2 separate regions of the Homo sapiens genome follow, and region 1 is linked to region 2. The links come from fine-mapping of genetic effects on gene expression. A gene starts in region 2. The other region holds a variant in brackets. All regions are shown on one strand. Distances are between the middles of the regions. Region 1 holds the start of CSTL1 (cystatin like 1). Region 2 holds the start of GZF1 (GDNF inducible zinc finger protein 1).

Region 1 (9,272 bases), 79 kb after region 2:
AGAAAAATGGGCAAAAGATTTGAACTTGAAGACTTAATTACAGATTTCAACAGACTCTTGGCCCTCTTCCGCTTTTGCTGCTCATTGCTTCAGTGGGAAAAGCATCTGCTTACAGAAAACCAGACAGATCGCAGGAGAAGGTGGAAGCAGGAGTGTCGCAGCCTGCAGAATCCACCTGCTTTTTCTTTGCTTTCAAAATGGAACCTGATGACTATTTAAGAGCTGGTAAACAGATATTGTGTTGTGGAAAACGTCTGCAGAAAGGAGACCAAAGGCTGGATGAGGACGATGACCTCCCCACAAGCCCCTCCACTCTGGGCATCCTTGGCCTCTTGTGACACGCTCTCACTTTTTAAGCCTTGTGATTTCTCATGTTTCTGTGTCTGGAAAGAGAAAATGTACCCTGGGACCTTTGGAGCGATGCCAGCTTGGAGCCATCTGTAGCACCGCCTTGTTTGCTGACTTTCTGTGCGCCTGCTGCTGGCCTGCTCCCCAGAATCAGAAGGCATTTCCAGCCAAGATCAGCCATGTTCTTCTGCTGCTGCCCTGGGGGCGAGGGCTCAGGGCTGCAGTGGGAGCTGCTGCTGGCAGCATGGACTGTGCTCCCCTACCCCTGCCCTGCAGCCACAGTTGGGAGATTCCTCAAGCAGGCACAGACTGCTGACCATTCCTTCCTGGGCCATGTTTGGAGGGTGCCCAGCAGCAGGTGGGTCGCAAATAGATTTGCTTTCTGCCTGGGTTATCTCCAGGTCAGCAGCCAGCCTAGAACAGGATTATTTAGGGGACAAAGAAGAGCTTGTCAAATAGTGCTACATGCAAAAAAAAAAAAAAAAAAAAAAAATAGAGTGGAGAGAAGAAACCAACCGAGATCAGCCGTGTTGTTTACAGAGGATTATTTGTTTCCCCAGAATGATCAGAAAATTTCAGATAGCAGATGTCGGCTGATGAAGAGAGTGTCACAGTGTGACCCTTTCCCAGCACCAATGCCATATCTACTGGTGAAGGAGTGATGAAGAACTACAGCCAGGAAGCTCCCTGTCTGCAGGTTCCTCAGCCCACATAAGCAGAGCCTGCTGGGATAAAACACATCATCATGTTCTTGTTTATTTCCTGCTTCTCCTAGGAGCTGGACTGATAAAGAAATCCTGAGCTTGGTCGTCAACAGACAGAACCAGGAAGTTGTGCAGCTCATAGGGGGCCTCTGTGGGACACACACCATCTCGCCCACACAGCACCCAGCCACGGGTTGATCCAACAGGAATCCCACACTTGCCATCATGCCTGGTCCAGCAGTGGCCTGTTACCAGGTTCAGCTTATGAGACAGGAGGCCCAGTTTGCTGGACTCCTGGGAAACATACTTTTTCTTTCTTTCTTTTTTTTTTTTTTTTTCAGACGGGGTCTTACTCTGCTGGGCAGGCTGGAGTGCAGTGGCACAATCACAGCTCACTGCATTCTAGACCTCCAGGGCTCAAGCGATCCTTTCATCTCAGCCTCCAGAGTTGCTGAGACTACAGGCATGTGCTCCCCGGCTAATTTTTGTGTTTTTTAGTAGAGATGGGGTTTCACCATGTTGGCCAGGCAGGTCTTGAACTCCTGGCCTCATGTGATCTGCCCACCTTGGCCTCCCCAAAGTGTTGGGATTACAGGTGTGAGCCACGGCGCCTGGCCAAATTGCACATATTTAAAGTGTACAATTTGATGAAATTTGTCATACGTATGCACCTGTGGAATTATCACTACAATTCATACAACAGACATATCTATCACCTGAAGTTTTCTCATGCCCTTCTGCAATCCTTCTCTCCTATGCTCCTTATTCCACAGACATGAGCAGACCTCATATTTCCTGTTATTCCATGGTCTAACCAGAGCTCATATTTTTCCCTTCTTTTATTGGCAAGAACAGGGCTCCTATTTGTTATAGCCAGCACTCCTAATTTACTCTTGTTCCACGGAAATACTCAGGCCCCTATTTTTCCATTGTTTCATGGCAGTAACCAGACAACAACTAAGCCCTCTATTTCCCTTTGTTCTGTCGCCCAGGCTGGAGTGCTTGGTGTGATCTCAGCTCACTGCAGCCTCGACCTCTCTTGGGCTCAGGTGATCCTCCCACCTCAGCCTCCAGAGTAGCTGGGACTACAGATGTGGGCCACCATGTCTGGCTAATTTTTGTATTTTCTGTGGAAACGGGGTTTCACCATGTTGCCCAGGCTGGTCTGGAACTCCTGGGCTGAAGCAATCCTCCTAGCCTCAGCCTCCCAGGTGTCAGCCACTATGCTCTGCCCCTATTCCATGCTGTAACCAAGCTCCCTGTCTCCCTTTATACATGTACCTTACCAGAATCATATTTTTTTCCTGATTCCATGTCCACAGAGTCAGAAATCAGCATTTTGCTGACACAAGCTAAGGAACGCCAGTGTGACCTGTTAGGCGCCTCACATCTCTTTCTGTGGCATAGTCAGGGTCTATGTTTTCCTTTTCTTCAATTAAAATTGCCAGTGACTCATTTTCCTCTTTATGGACACAACCAACTCCCATATTTCTTAAGCAGATTTATTGTTTATGCTTTGAGCCCCACATCCATGGGGTTTCTAATATGGCCCACCCAATGTTATTTTTCCTCTCTATGGGCCTCAGCCTGATGGGGGTATCCCAGGTGTCTGGGGCATGCTGAGACGGCACAGGTCTGTGTGGCTTCCCGGATTACTCGGAATCCTTCATTATCTATTCTACAGCAAGTGGCCCTCGGCAGCTCAGGCTCAGGGAATTTCAAATGTATCACCTCCACCGGCTGGACAAGTCCTCTCAAGACAGGCTCTGGGGCCAAGGGAGGATGTTGTGACTGGTGCTAGCAACATTGTCATGATGGAAGGTGGCCTGGCTTCCGGGACATGACAGGCCATGGGTGAAGTGTGGGTTCAGAGTCACAGAAGAATCACGAAGAAGACATTCTTATGCACCTGACACCTGACTTGGGAGCAGGTTCTTTGCCTACATCCAGTTAGTCTCTACCACAATTCAAGTGGAGTCTTTCTCCCCATTCTCATATTACAGGTGAAGAAACCCAGCTTAGGGAGATGAGGTAACTCTCCCAGAGTCCCCAGCGAAGGACTTGAGCCAGGACAGTTGGATCCTAAGTCTCCTGCTTCCCCTCCCTCAGCACGCTACTCCTCACAGAACAACGCTTTATTTAGTTTTGGACATTTTAACCTTTATTTTGGAATAATTTCAGACTTACACAAAGGCTGCAAAAATAGCATAAAGCATTCTCGTATACCCTTCATTCCACTTCCCCAAATGTTAACATATTATACAATCACAGTACAACGGTGAAAACTAGAATATCAACATTCACACAATACTATTAACTAATCTGCAGATTTTATTCACATTTCATCAACTATTCCACTAATGTTTTTTTCTGGTAGGATTCCATTTAAGGTGTTTTTTTTTGTTTGTTTTTTGTTTTTTTTCTGAGACACAGTCTCGCTCTGTCACCTAGGCTGGAGTGCAGCGGCACCCTCCCGGCTCACTTCAGCCTCCACCTCCTGGGTTCAAGTGATTCTCCTGCCTCAGCCTCCCAAGTAACTGGGACTACAGGTACACACCACCACACCCAGCTAATTTTGTATTTTTAGTAGAGATGGGGTTTCACCATGTTGGCCAGGCTGGTCTCGAACTCCTGATCTCTGGTGATTCACCCACCTCAGCCTCCCAAAGTGCTGGGATTACAGGCGTGAGCCACCGCGCCCAGCCAGCAAATGTTTTTAAAATAGG[G/C]CATTCATGGGCTTTTGGGGGTAAGTGACACCTAATCTTCAGGGGTCTGCGGATAATTTCTAAATGGGGCTCACAGTTTATTCCTCCCTCATAGGGAGGCTGCAATTACCTCACAAAGCTCCACTAGGGTCACAACAAGATAGCAAAAGCCAGTGCAGGGCCTGCAGGTATAGGGGGATCCTGCAAGCAGAAATCTGTGGTGGGCGGGCGGCAGGTGAGCAAGGAGAACGTGTCTGTAAAGGAAGCACAGGGAACAGGTGGTGGCTTTGTAAGACAGTTGGAACCCAAGGAAGGTAAGAATAATGTACCACTCCTTGCTCCATATGACTGCTTCCTTATATCTCAGTTCAGATATTACCTTCTCCGTAAGGCCGCCTCCCTTCCTGTAAGTGATGCTTCTCTATCTACAACCCCAGCTCTTATTGCAGAGCACTGTAGGGGCTGTTCTGGGGCTTTTCTTCCCTGAGACATGTGAAGGCAGGGAGAGGGGCTTGCACGCCTTAGCAGGTGTTTAAAAATTTTGCTTGCCTGGATCACCAAAGAACTGAATGGGTGGTGTAAATGGGTAGAAAATGAACTGGCTGGAAACTGAGTGACAAGGTTCAGGTCTGAATCTCTGTTTAAATGCAGGCAGGCCATCCCCCAGGAAAGCCTATGTTGGTGAGGGTTATGATGGGAGAATGAGTGAACTGCAGCCTGGCACCACCACACCCTGGAAGGTGCAGTTGGGAAGAAAGTTTCTGAGGCTGTAGACATGGGGATCGGATGCTGGAGAAACCCCCTGCTGCTGCTGATTGCCCTGGTCCTGTCAGCCAAGCTGGGTCACTTCCAAAGGTGGGAGGGCTTCCAGCAGAAGCTCATGAGCAAGAAGAACATGAATTCAACACTCAACTTCTTCATTCAATCCTACAACAATGCCAGCAACGACACCTACTTATATCGAGTCCAGAGGCTAATTCGAAGTCAGATGCAGGTTTGTACCTTGCTCTCCCAAGACATCAGCAGGCCCTGTTCTTGCCAGTTCAGACATGTGAGGATTCTGGGGTAGCTCCCAAGAGAACCAAGTGGTGGTCCTCCGTGAGGTCCCAAGGGGGAAGCATCTTCACTTGTAGCAGGTACATTGTAGAGTTGTTCAGATCCCAGAATGTCCTTAGCCATGCTTCCAAAATGCTTTCCTAAGGACTGGCATGAACTCTAACTCCAATACACTTAGAGGCAAAAGTGTTCACTGAGGATTAAACTCTTTTTTTTTTTTTTTTTGAGATGGAGTTTCGCTCTTGTTGCCCACGCTGGAGTGCAATGGCATGATCTTGGCTCACTGCAACCTCCTCCTCCCAGGTTCAAGTGATTCTCCTGCCTCAGCCTCCCAAGTAGCTGAGATTACAGGTACGTACCACCACACCTGGCTAAATTTTTTGTATTTTTAGTAGAAACCGGTTTTCACCATGTTAGCCAAGCTGGTCTCGAACTCCTGACCTCAGGTGATCTGCCCACCTCGGCCTCCCAAAGTGCCGGAGTTACAGGCGTGAGATACCACGCCCGGCCAGCTCTTTTTCCTTGGGAAGAAATGCCTTTCATTCTGATATTTGACCCTGCCGGAGTGACAGCAAGGATAATTTTGCTCCCTTTAAAGTTCTCATTTGGCAAAATACAAATATTCTCTGTAGGCCTGTAGCCCCCAATATTTTTTCAATGTGTAGGGTTGTAAAATTCAAAACTGGGTGTTCTGTGTTATACAAACTTCAAATTATACAGAGGGTTTATTCTGGAAGTGGAGAGGATGTGAGAGATAGGGTTCAGCCAGATCACCTCACCTTCTGTTTTACATATAAAATTTCTCTGAAATATATCAATTGAAGGATAATAGAAGAAAGAAAAGTTGTTAGGGAACCCCTTTTATTGGTACAACATTTCCTCAAGGTCAGATAATAAACTATACAGTCCCCTTGGTGTCCATGAGGAATTGGTTCCAGGACCCCTCAGGATGCCCACATCCATGGATTCTGAAGTCTTTTATGTAAAATGGAATAGTGTTTCCACATAACCTATGCACATCTTCCCACATATGGTAAATCATTTCTAGATTAATTATAATAAGTGGTACAGTGTAAATGCTATGTAGATAATTATTATACTGTACTGTTTAGGGAATAATTACAAGAAAAAATGTTCAGTATACAGGCAACCATACATTTTTTTTTCCTGAATATTTTGATGCACGGTTGTTTGCATCCACAGATATGGAGCTCGTAAGTACAGAGGGCTGACTGTAGAAGTTGGGGCAGCAACAATGCTACGTCCTAGTTCAATTAGCTAGATTTGGGAAAACACAACTGGCTATGGGAAAGCTCTCTCGCCAGAGAGTAAGGCAGCTGGAACAGAGAGAACCGGCAAGGCGGGAGGGCAGCGTGGGGAGGACCAGTCAGCATAGGTCAAATCCTCATCCCAATGCAGACTGTCCCACAGGCTGGCTCAGTGAGGCACTTCTACCACAAGATGGCGATGTTGCCCATTTGGTTCTTGGTTCTTCCACAATTGGTTAAGACCCCAAGGAGGCTTGCCTTGTGAAATCAATCCATCACCATTAAGTTAGCTGTTAAGGAATAATGATGAGCATTTGATGTCATTCACATTGATAAGCAGACAGAGCAGGCGTGCCTCCTGGTAGCTGGGTGATCTTGGCATGGGCCTCTGGGCACCCCCACACCCATATGACCATTGTGTCTGTCCTTACACCTCACAGAGGGGACAAGAGCAGGCGTGGAGGGCTGCCAGGTGCCTCTGGGGGCTTCACGCCCAGCTCCTCCCAACTGAGGCTCCTGGTCAAGTGACATCCAGACTCTCCAGACCTCAGTTTCTTCACCTGCAAAGTGCCTCAGAATAGGAGGGAAGCACTTAGCACAGTGCCAACATCTGGTAGCACTTATAAAAAATCTTTGCTGTTATTATGACTACTCCTGTCATTATCGAACAAATAAGTCTAATAACGAATAACACTTTGCACACTGGAATGTCAGTTACAGTGATGACGGGTGGTTTAGTTTTTTCTTACATTCTGAGCATGCTGAAAGTCAGTGTGACCGTGCCTGGGGCAGCCCTGCAAATGCCCATGCATGGATGGCCCCCACATGTTTGGGTGCGGGGAGGCTGGTACTGCCCTCAGGTCTAGGCTCCCTGCTGCCCTGTCCCAGTGTTTGCTAAGGGTGTCTTCCTCCCAGGAGCAGTGTGGGCACTCTCTGCCTCAGTCACCACCCCAGAGATGACCAAGCCCTCTCACTGGGCTTGACCAGTGACAGGGCAAGGCAACAGGGAGCTTCCCAGAGCTTCTCCTGCACCGGTGAAGATCCACTAATCCACATATCTACTCAGGAATCCAGCTCAGAACCCGACAGGGAACCGTAACCCCCAAGCTCTCTGTTAGTCTCCCTTCTGGGCGTAGGGCCTCCCTGCCCACAAGGGCTTTTCCAGGCTCCAACCCCTGCAGGCTTCATGGCCTCACACTTGATCACAAGTGAAAGAGCCATGGGGAAATCCCTGGCATGCGTTCTCCATGGCTCGTGTACCCACCATGCCTCCTTCCTTCATTTCTGTACACGCTAGGAGGAAACTGGCATTATTCTCCTCATTTCCTAGATGAGGAAACTGAGATTCAGTAAAATTTACAGAGTCTGCAGGGGGTAAAGCCAGATTTTGTGTTCTGTCACTCTCCTAACACTGAATCTGCTTCAAAGTAACACTGCAGACACTTTGCTAAAAGATGTAATAACTTATAATTATGAAAATATTTAAAATTTATTTTATGCATTCAGGGAAATGCAAGCTTCCATTTAGCCCACATAACAACTCCAGAAGCAGGCACAATTGTGGTTTGTAGTTTGTAAGTGAAAAAGCTGAGGATGCTAAGTAACTTGCTCAAGGTCACAGTCACTAAATGGAAAATGCATGCCCCAAATCAATTCGATTCCAAAACTGTTTTTAACTGTATTGCTAAGCTGCCTTCCACTAGGTTGGTCAGGAAGGATAGTAGAGACAGAGGAAATGGCAGAAGGGACTGGGGGGGTGGGGACAAGATGCTGGCTCTGTTGCATTTTGAAGGCCACATCTGCCAGCCTGGGAGTGGCCTGTGGTGGCCAGGCAACCCAGCTTGATGTTGCCTCTTCTGTCCTGAGGATGGAACAGAGGCAGGTGAGAAGCTTTCTGTGGCTGCTGCAGCAAAACCAACCTATGACCAGGGGCTTTGGCTGCCATTGCCCTCCCTCCAGCCAGAAGTAAGGAGAAGGGAGCCATGCTTTTGGTGGGTAAGCTCCGCGAACAAGAACTGTGGCCCTGGGAGCTTTACTCTCAGTCCTAGCTTCTCCAGGAGAGGGTCAGCCACTGGATGCTTGGAGTCCACACTAACAGCACAACTGATTCTCGGCAGCTGACGACGGGAGTGGAGTATATAGTCACTGTGAAGATTGGCTGGACCAAATGCAAGAGGAATGACACGAGCAATTCTTCCTGCCCCCTGCAAAGCAAGAAGCTGAGAAAGGTGTGTAGTGGAAGTCATCCCAAAGGGACTTGTGAAGTGAATATTTTAAAAAGCAACAGCTAGAAGTTGGCAGTTTTGCCACTTGTGTGGATTGGGGCCAGCTGGGGCCCAGCCCTGGGGCTGTCTGGCACCTCCTGAGGCACCTGGGTGAAGGAGGGAGGCTTTATATTTGGGCTGGTACAGCCCTGCACCCAGGCCTCTGGTTGCCTGGACCCTTCTCCAACCTGGCCTGCTCCCCAGACCCTCTGCGTGAAAGCAGTGGTTCCCTTTCCTTGGGGTCCTTCTTCTGTCTTCTTTCTCCCTCTCCAGGTCTCTAAGGTTGTCCAATTTCCTCCTTGTTCCCTTCTATTTTTCCTGGTCCATGAGTGGCACCCCTTGAAAGCTGGCAGATACAAGGGGCTCCCCCATGCCTGGGGAGGTGCAGGAGGAGGTAACGATGCTATTGCTCCTTGCTGGCCTGCCTGGCCCACATGACAGGGTCCGGCCAGGCCATAGACTCCAGGTTCACCTGCTGTGGGTCCCAAGTGGCTGGGTAGGGGGAAGACAGGGTGACATTCCTGTTCCAGACTGGCACTCCTTTCTGTTTCTACCCTTGACTGTGGGCAGCTCCCCTCTCTGCCCATGGGGTTCATGAGCAGCCACAGGGAGAGACCTGGGGAACAGGTGCCTGTTGCTTGCCTTTGAAAAATACTTCCCCCAAAGTCTGTTTTCTTTCTTCTTCTACAGAGTTTAATTTGCGAGTCTTTGATATACACCATGCCCTGGATAAACTATTTCCAGCTCTGGAACAATTCCTGTCTGGAGGCCGAGCATGTGGGCAGAAACCTCAGATGAGGGCTCATATGATTGAGTTGTGCACTGGCTGTTATTAAACTGTAAAGGATCATGTCTCCCTCATTGGGGTCTTATTACACATGCACACACACACATGCACACACAGAGTGTACACGTACACACACTTGC
Region 2 (9,272 bases):
GTCTGTTGCAAGCTTGGAAGGTGCACACCTGTTGCTGCTAATTTGGACAATTTGGGGGAAGAGCAGAGATTTAGATGTTGCTTTGGTCGACCTTAAACACCAGCCCTGTCTCCCCTACCACTTTGCCAAATTAGGGCCCCGTCTCTCTAAAGAGCAAACAGAAAACTGCAGAAAGTTGCTTTGTCCTGTAGACAAGAGGCTGGGACTAGGTAAGAGGAGGGAGCCAGGATGCAAAACTTAAGACCAGCCTGGCCAACAAGGCGAAACCCCGTTTCTACTAAAAATAGAAAAATTAGCTGGGCGTGGTGGCAGGCGCCTGTAATCCCAGCTACTCAGGAAGCTGAGGCAGGACAATCGCTTGAACCCAGGAGGCGGAGGTTGTAGTCAGCCAAGATCGCGCCACTGCATTCCAGTCTGGGCGACAGAGCGAGACTCCGTAACAAAAAACAAACAAACAAACAAAAAATCTTAAACATCACCAACGAGCCTTGTGAGAAATGGTTTAACGTTGTGATACCTTGCCCAATTTTAAGGCAGGTAAAGGTGTGTGTTAAAACTCAACTCTTGAACTGAACCCCAGCTGCCCTTTAGGGCATGCTTAATTTGATGTGGACTGTAACCTCTTTTGCAGCATTGTAGAGATTTGGAATCTGCACATTAGGAAGAGACCCCACGAGGCGGTGGCGTTCTTTCTCGTTCGGAGCTCACACCCCTCCTGGGGAGCCCTCTCCCAACCCGGGCTCCCGGTAAGCGCGGTCGCCGCTCCTCTGAGGGCTGCTCTTCCCTCGCTTCTGAGCCGAGGCCCCCGCGACACGAACGCCACGCCCGAAGCGCTCTTGCCAGGACGTACTGACCGAGGGTAGGCTGCCCAGCCGGGTGGTAACGTTGAGGAAAGGACAGCAGCTTCGCAAAGGAGCTGGGTAAAACCACGCCCAGACCCCGCTGGCCACCAGCCCGAGACCAAGACGCAGGCGGTGGCGCCGGTTTCTCACTCAACCGCAGGTTCCAGCATCCCCGATACGGCCGACGTCATTACCCTGCGACCGCTCAGGACACTTCTGAGGACTCTTTTGACAGCTAGTAATCGCGCGGTGGCGCGACCACGTGACTCCGGCGCCCTAGCCCCGCCCTCCGTCTCCAAGGAGCCCTGGAAGGAGCTATACCAGCGGCTCCAGAAGGCGGGGAGAGGCGGGGCCGGACTCCGGGACAGCCAATGGGCGAGGAGTGCCGCCCAGCCTGACCCACCGGCCGCTCCCTCACGAGCCTGTGGGCGTGCGCCGGCTGTGCAGGTGAGGGGCAGCGAGGGCGCCTAGTGGGCAGGGCGCCGGCGTTGCGCGTGCGTCAGTGTTCTTCCTTGTGCAGTTTAGAATTTGATACATTTCTTTCCAGTCTATTTCTATAGATTTGTTTTCAAATCACATCAGACCCTATGTAAAATAGTGTACCGTCTTTACTCATTATAACATGGTGAGCATTTCCCCAAGCTATTACACATATTTTTAAACATTGTTTTAATGACCGGCATAATAATCCAGTGCTTGGATATATCAAATTCTTCGGCCATCTCCTTATAGGTGAGATTGTTTCCAAAGTTTCACTAATGTAAGTGCACTGCAGTGAACGCCCTTACGTAACAATTGTTCACTCCCGTGTACTTTTCTCGTGCAGAGTTCTACAGCATGAAACACTATATTTAACTTTGTCAGGTTGATGTTTATCAGTGGTTTATTATTGTTTTTATAGTATTCCATTGTCAGTGAAGTATGCCATTCACACTGTCAAGTGAATTGTCTATTTGTATTATTTAAAAAAAAGATCACAAACATAGAAAGGAGAGCTTTATTTCTTTAAACGGTGATAACCTGCAAGGTGGCCCTTCTGACAGGCTGGGAAGCATAGCTTCTGGCAGAAGCTCAAAAGGCAGGCAGCTGGAGGGAAGGGGGCCTAAGACAGGAATTTAAGCTGAAGGACTTAGCCAAGTACACATATGAACAGGCCACAGGAAGAGCTATGAATATTCATGAAACGGGTCCTGACCCATGCTTACTGGACAAACGTGCATGTTACAGGTGACCTATGTTTACTTTGGGGTGGACTCTTAGCATTTACAGGTATTCATGTATTACATTTAGACCCTATAAGTTGAAAGATCTTTTCAGGACACCGATGCACTTGTGTGCAGCCTCTGTAAACCGCCAGAATCAGCCCCTGTTCGGTTGTTTCCCATCAGGAAAAAGTTACTGCAGTCAGTCTCTGGTCCAATCAAAGCAGTAATTATTTGTGGAAGTGGTGGGGCTGGGGCAGGGGGCGTGTCAGTCAGCATGTGGAGGTGGATGAAAAGCACATTGTTTGAATATTGCTTATCTAGAGGCCAGTGCTTGTTTGGCTGCCAGAGAATAAAAACCTTGTGGCAGTTAAGGCATAGTTTCTTCTTGAAGTGTAGAGGTGCATGACAACCCTTGCCAGGCATGGCCCTTCATTCTTTATCATTTAGTATTGCCACAAAGAGTCTGTGAGTCTTATGACCTCTATTTTTAAAGCTATTAAGACACTCAACTAAAGCAATCCTTTCAGTATTGAATGGATAAGCTAGCATTATGTTATGCTAGCTAACATAATCGGAGACGGAGTCTCATTCTATTGCCCAGGCTGGAGTGCAATGGCATGATCGAAGCTCACTGCAACCTCCATCTCCTGGGTTCAAGTGATTCTCCTGCCTCAGCCTCCTGAGCATCTGGGATTACAAGTGCCTGTCACCACTCCCGGCTAATTTGGTTTTGTTTTTTTGAGACAGAGTTTTCCTCTGTTGCCCAGGCTGGAATGCAGTGGTGCAATCTCCGCTCACTGCAACCTCTGCCTCCCATGTTCAAGCGATTCTCCTGCCTCAGTCTCCTGAATAGCTGGGATTAAAGGCATGTACCACCTCGCCCAGCTAATTTTTGTATTATTAGCAGGGAAAGGGTTTCACCATGTTGTCCAGGCTGGTCTTGAACTCCTGACCTCAGGTGATCCGCCCACTTCAGCCTCCCAAAGTGCTAGAATTACAGGTGTGAGCCACCGCACCTGGCCTAATTTTTGTATTTTAGCAGAGACGGGGTTTCACCATGTTGGCCAGGCTGGTCTTCAACTCCTGACCTCAAGTGATCGGCCCGCCTCGGCCTCCCAAAGTGCTGGGATTACAGGCGTGAGCCACCGTGCCTGACCACCTTTTTGTAATGCAAAACAAAATCATAAAACACGATTCTGGGCCTGCTGGAGCCATGGGTGAAAACTGCGTTCATTCCAATTTCTTCAAATCATGGAATGCAAATATAGAGAGTCGGCCTAAGAAAGATTTCTGTCACTCATTCATTCTTCAAATATTTATTGAGCACCTACTATGTGTGGGAAGCTGGCTCCTGTTCAGGAAATATAATTAAAAGTACAATCTCCCAACCCTCTTCAGAAAGGTAGTGGAGAAAGAAAACACTTTGTAATTGAATAAGCATTAAACTAGAATGTGATACCCATCACAGGCAATCCATTAAGAGACTGCAAAGACAGAACGAAATCTCACTCTTTTGTGCAGCCAAGCAATCTATTACACACATTTTCAAGATAAACAATAACTAGCTCTCAAGGGAACTTGGCAGCATTTTTCATCACACACAGTTCATCTAACCTGATATTTGGGATGATCCTCTGTGTTAGCCAATTGGCTTTATCTAGAGGAAAAAGAAACTTGTATCTTTATGATATGAGATAATTTTGTAAGTTGGAGCAAAGGGCCCACTGAAGTTAGGCTCCTACTCCCCCATTAAAACTGGGAGACAGGGGCATTAACTCCCTTGATACTTAAAGAGATGGCTCCTAGGTCCTAGAAAAAGACATATCTAGGTTATAAAGCGCACAAAAAGGCCTAACTAGTCTTCAAAAGGATTTATATATTTCAAAGAGAGGAAAAAGTACTTACACTAATTACCAATTTTCTAAAAGTAAATGTTCGAAGAAAAAGGGAGGGAAATCTCATATTTTCAACAGGAAGTAGTAAACCTTATTTTAAATTTGTATTTGTCCTGACAGTCCCCAAACATTACAAACTCAACGTGTCGGTAAGACAAGGCTGAGTTAACTGCTGGCCACAGTAAGGGACAGCATGACCTGGCAAAGCTTTACCAATGGCTGGGAGCAAAAGGCAAGGTCAGTTTATTGAGAACTGGAAGTCTGACTCAAGGAAGGTGTTTCAAAGCGGGCTTTAGTTAGTATTGAGCAAGAATTGGTGGAAACAGCAAGATTTCGAGGAGTCAGCGAATCTTAGGGAATCAATTGTGCTTTCCCCGAAGAGTGGATGGGTCTCTGGGGAAGTTCTGTAGTGAACAAAGCTTTCGCCCGAATGGGAACTCCTGGAAATAAAGCCCTGCAGTAAAGACGGCAGGGTGCGGTCCCGGCTCCTGGCGCGCCGAGCCCCCCAGCAGGGCGGGGGCACCGCGGAAGAAGCGCCCCAGAGGAGAGCGCCGCGCCGAGCCCCGCCTGGCGCCAGTTCTCCAGCGCCCGTGGAGGCATCTGCGCCCCTAGTAGCCAAGGTGAGTACCAGCTCCAAGCCCGGCTTTCCGCGAGGTCCCTCGCGTGGCCACCGTGCCCTAAGGGTGCGCTCGGCCTCGGGGACGTGAGCAGCTCTTAGTGGGAAGCCAGCTGCAGGCCCTGACCGCAGGCTGCTGGGGCCCGGAAGCGCTGGCGCCTTGCGGCCAGAAGCCCGGAATGGACGCGAAAGTGACCACGCGAATCTGACGCTCACGTGACTTTTCGCGACTGGCCCCGCCCCCCTGTGGCGTGCCGCAGCGCAGACGTCGCTGTCTCCTGCGCAGGCGCAGGCCTTGGCTCGCGGCGGGTGACGCAATGCGGCGGGTGACGCAATCCGGCGTCGCCAGTCAGTCGCGCGGCCAGATCAGGTAACTGCCCGAACCGCTCCGCCGCCCGACGTGTGGCTCAGCCCCTTCCTCAGCCCCGCCAGGGGCGGGGCCGGCCGCGGGAGGGGAGGGGCCTGCAGCGACCAATCGGCGGTGCCCGCGCAGGGTGCTACGCCACGCCCAGCCGGGCCGGCCGTTCCTACCGGCCTGGTCCAGCGGACAGCGGCTGCAGCGGGGGCGCCGGCTGGGAGGTGAGTGCGCGGCCCGTAGGCCTGGCTCCGGCCCCTCGCCGCCCGCCGCCGCCTCTTTGTCCGCGCGCCCCGGCTGCTCTGTGGACCTGCGCGTCTCGGGGATGCGGGAGCGGGGGCAGGGGGCGGCCCGAGGGCCTGATCCACGCGGCCCCGGATGCCCGCGTCGGGAGGCGGCGCGTCGGGCCGAGGAGGGGCTTCTCTGTGGCTGCAGTAGTTTGTTCTCTGGGTCGTCTTTGGAGTGGCCGAGCGGCGTCCGGGCGCTGGGGCGGCCAAGTGGCGCGGGAAGGGTGGGAGGTGCCGTGAGGGCGGCGAGGACAGCGGCGGATTTAAGCCCCACTGGAAACCCCGGCCCTTGTGGCCGTGGACTGGGCTGCGGGTAGCAGCGTCTCCTGGAAGGGCTCTGGCCCCGTGAGCCTCGGGGATTCAGGGGCCGCCGACGTTGGTGCAGATGCCGGGCGCACTGGGAGGCGGCCGGAATGCCAATGAGATTCGGCGGATACGCAGCTGTCACCGGCCGCAGACTGCCCTGTCGCCACCTCCAGTGCCTGCACTCCAGTAGCCAAGCAACATAGGAAATCGCGCTCAGAACCCACTTTGTTGATTGAGAAATCAGGTCTCCTCGAGGGCCCTGTTGGCAGAGGTCTGGGGAAGTCAGGGCATCAGGCTGAGAGAGCCCTCTGCAGTCTTGTTTCCCCAGGCTGGGGCTGGGACCACTGAAACCCCAGTGGCTCTATAAGAGCCCCACTCTTATAGATCCCTTCCTTAGGCTTTGTCAGTGTTCTCACAGTTTTACTGGGGCGTCTCCTTCAGGCGACATTGATCAAGCCTCATAGGTACCTGTTTACAGCGGAACTCCCAGAGGGCAGTCTTTTCCATGTTTGAGGGACTGCTAGTTGTGGGGAGCGGTCTCATTGATGAGACTGGAGAAGGGGAGAGGGGTGGGACTAGTTTATCAGGGAAGATGATGACAACTTTTTTTCTAGACACGTTGAATCCGAGGTGACATCTGTGGTCTGGCCGAAGGAGGCTAGAAGGAAGGCATGTGCTTTGGATGGATGGAAACAGGAATCAAAGAGGAAGGTAGATTCAGGAGCTGAAGGGCAGGGAGAAAACACATTCAGGGAGTTTGTGGCAAAGCAGCAGAAATGACGATGGGGTGACGGTATCTGGAGGCCTTAGGTGGGGTTGGTGAAATTTGCATGCCCGCTGCAGTGGAAAGATTTAGGGGCTAAAGATAGCCCTTTGCCTTTGGCAAGGCTGAGGGGAAGAGTGTGTTGAGTAGTCTGAGTTGAATCCGGGCACCAGGCCCTGGCTCATGTCCCAACCAGCCATTGACTGTTACCTTGATAGGTCCTCATCTATGAAATGGGGATCACTGTAGCACCTTGGCCTATGTGTGGGAAACCAATAAACTAGCCAACAAGTTTCAGGCTCATGGAACCCTGGTAACAGCCGGTCAGCCTTCTTCAGAGGAGGAAATGGGTTCAGAGAAGTTGCTTGCTCAAAGTAGCACAGCTTGTAAAAGCTGTGGAACTTAACATTATTTCAGTAGAGTAACAATAATTCAAATTCTGAGGAGTTTAGGATGTTGGGAATGGGCGATGAATTGTGAACTACTTTTCCAAGAAGTTTTCCTCATGGAAAGTAGTTATTTAGTTGGTTCTTTTCAAAGGCAGAAATGATTCCCTGAGGTTTTGGATTTGCTCCCAGATGGTGGTGGCTATGTGTTTTAATTATCTGGTTTCCTGATCAGAGAACTAGACATTATTGTTGCCATGAATTCTTTTACAGTTTTGGGGACTATGTAAGCAAATTAGACAGTGACCTTGGTGAGCAAATTACTGTGTTAATGTATTTCACTAATCACAACTTCCATCATTTGTTTATCACTGGAGGAAACCTTAGAATACACTATTTTTCATGCCAATTTATTACCTTAGGAAAATGCATGAGGAACCTCACTTTAGAAAACTGCTAAGAAGTAAAATGTCATTCGAATCTTTACCTGAGTAAAGCTAGGTTGTTAATGAGTCTATATCCTCTCAAGTACTGAAGGAATCCTCATAAATTTTAGTCCTTTTGCATCAGTGGTTGCTCATGCATAATTCTTGTTTCTTTTTCAAAGCTGTTTTTGGAAGGAAGAAAGATGGAAAGCGGTGCAGTTCTGCTGGAATCCAAATCCTCCCCATTTAACCTACTGCATGAGATGCATGAGCTTCGCCTCCTGGGTCACCTGTGTGACGTGACAGTCAGCGTGGAGTATCAGGGTGTCCGCAAAGACTTCATGGCCCACAAGGCAGTGCTGGCTGCCACCAGCAAGTTTTTTAAGGAAGTGTTCCTTAATGAGAAGAGTGTGGATGGTACTAGGACTAATGTCTACTTAAATGAAGTGCAGGTTGCTGACTTTGCTTCATTTCTTGAGTTTGTCTACACTGCAAAGGTACAGGTGGAAGAAGATCGGGTGCAGCGAATGCTGGAAGTGGCTGAAAAGCTGAAATGTTTGGATTTATCAGAAACTTGTTTTCAATTAAAGAAACAGATGTTAGAGTCAGTACTTTTGGAGTTGCAAAATTTCTCAGAGTCTCAGGAGGTGGAGGTGAGCAGTGGCTCCCAAGTTAGTGCTGCTCCTGCCCCCAGGGCAAGTGTGGCCACCGATGGCCCTCACCCCAGTGGTCTCACGGATTCCTTGGACTACCCAGGAGAGAGAGCCAGCAATGGCATGTCTTCAGATTTGCCACCGAAGAAGTCCAAGGACAAACTAGACAAGAAGAAAGAGGTAGTTAAACCTCCCTACCCTAAAATCAGGAGAGCTAGTGGAAGGCTGGCTGGGAGGAAGGTCTTTGTGGAGATCCCTAAAAAGAAATATACGAGAAGACTCCGAGAGCAGCAGAAAACTGCTGAGGGTGATGTGGGGGACTACAGGTGTCCCCAGGACCAAAGCCCGGACAGGGTGGGCACGGAGATGGAGCAGGTTTCCAAAAATGAGGGTTGCCAGGCAGGTGCTGAGTTGGAGGAATTGTCAAAGAAAGCAGGGCCGGAGGAGGAAGAGGAGGAGGAGGAGGAGGACGAAGAAGGGGAGAAGAAGAAGAGCAACTTTAAGTGCAGCATTTGCGAGAAGGCGTTTCTGTATGAGAAGAGCTTCCTGAAGCACAGCAAGCACCGCCACGGCGTGGCCACCGAGGTGGTGTACCGCTGCGACACCTGCGGCCAGACCTTCGCCAACCGCTGCAACCTGAAGAGCCACCAGCGCCACGTGCACAGCAGCGAGCGCCATTTCCCATGCGAGCTGTGCGGGAAGAAGTTCAAGCGCAAGAAGGACGTGAAGCGGCACGTGCTGCAGGTGCATGAGGGCGGCGGCGAGCGGCACCGCTGCGGCCAGTGCGGCAAGGGCCTGAGTTCCAAGACAGCGCTGCGGCTGCACGAGCGCACACACACGGGAGACCGGCCCTACGGCTGCACCGAGTGCGGCGCCAGGTTCTCGCAGCCGTCCGCGCTCAAGACGCACATGAGGTACGCGGGGAGCCGTCCGGAGGGGTCCCTGCGCACTGGAAGGGTGTGTCAAGCACTGAGGTCGTCCTGGGATTTGATGTCTCACTGCTTAATTTCTCCGCTCCAAACCTGGGGGCTTATTTCGAGACAGCGTTTAGTTCTCTGTCAAGGTACAGGGGCTGCGAGTGATGGCTCTGCTCCCTTGTTCTGAGACCCCTGGGGCGCCCCTGCTGGCCGGGACGTCCCTCTGGTGGGACCGCGACAGCGGCCGCGGGCTCGCCCCACCGTGCTGGAGGAAGAGTTGGGCCTCGTTACCTTTATTTCTCCTTTCCTGACTCTTCGTTTAGATCTTGGGGTTCTGTGACCATCCGGGTCCCACAGTCTCAGTAGAGACCTCAGTGAGATGCCATTTCAGGCTTTAGGACTCGTCTCTGGTCTTTTGGTTCTCAGGCTTGGAAGGAGTGCCATCTAGGCAGTCTGCACTCCAGAATCAGGACAGACAGTGCTTTCTGTTTCTTAATATGTTTCTGAGCTGCAGGTGTGTGGTGATGTTTTTAAATAAGTTTTCTTATAGTTCTTAGTATATTTATTCTTGAAATCCCAACAAGCAGTTGTTTTCTCTTCTCTTCTAGATCTGCCCTCAAAC

Evidence for each region.
Region 1: its variant is fine-mapped to the expression of GZF1 in whole blood (TOPMed, PIP above 0.99).

Annotation. Positions count from the first base shown.
Region 1 is chr20:23,435,736-23,445,007 of GRCh38, forward strand. CSTL1 (cystatin like 1) reads left to right here and starts at 3,950. Exons shown (of 4, transcript NM_138283.1): 1 at 3,950-4,071; 2 at 4,409-4,751; 3 at 8,199-8,309; 4 at 9,036-9,195. The coding sequence starts at 4,533. The coding sequence ends at 9,143. RefSeq lists enhancers at 6,189-6,288, 6,691-7,270. The variant G/C (reference allele first, on the strand shown) is at 3,779.
Region 2 is chr20:23,357,101-23,366,372 of GRCh38, forward strand. GZF1 (GDNF inducible zinc finger protein 1) reads left to right here and starts at 5,082. Exons shown (of 6, transcript NM_022482.5): 1 at 5,082-5,137; 2 at 7,263-8,647. The coding sequence starts at 7,284. It overlaps LINC01431 (long intergenic non-protein coding RNA 1431), which reads right to left and starts at 1,027. Exons shown (of 3, transcript NR_109884.1): 1 at 855-1,027; 2 at 1-37. RefSeq lists enhancers at 453-542, 733-1,122, 4,548-4,807, 6,622-6,681 and silencers at 1,173-1,362, 4,368-4,457, 4,878-5,367.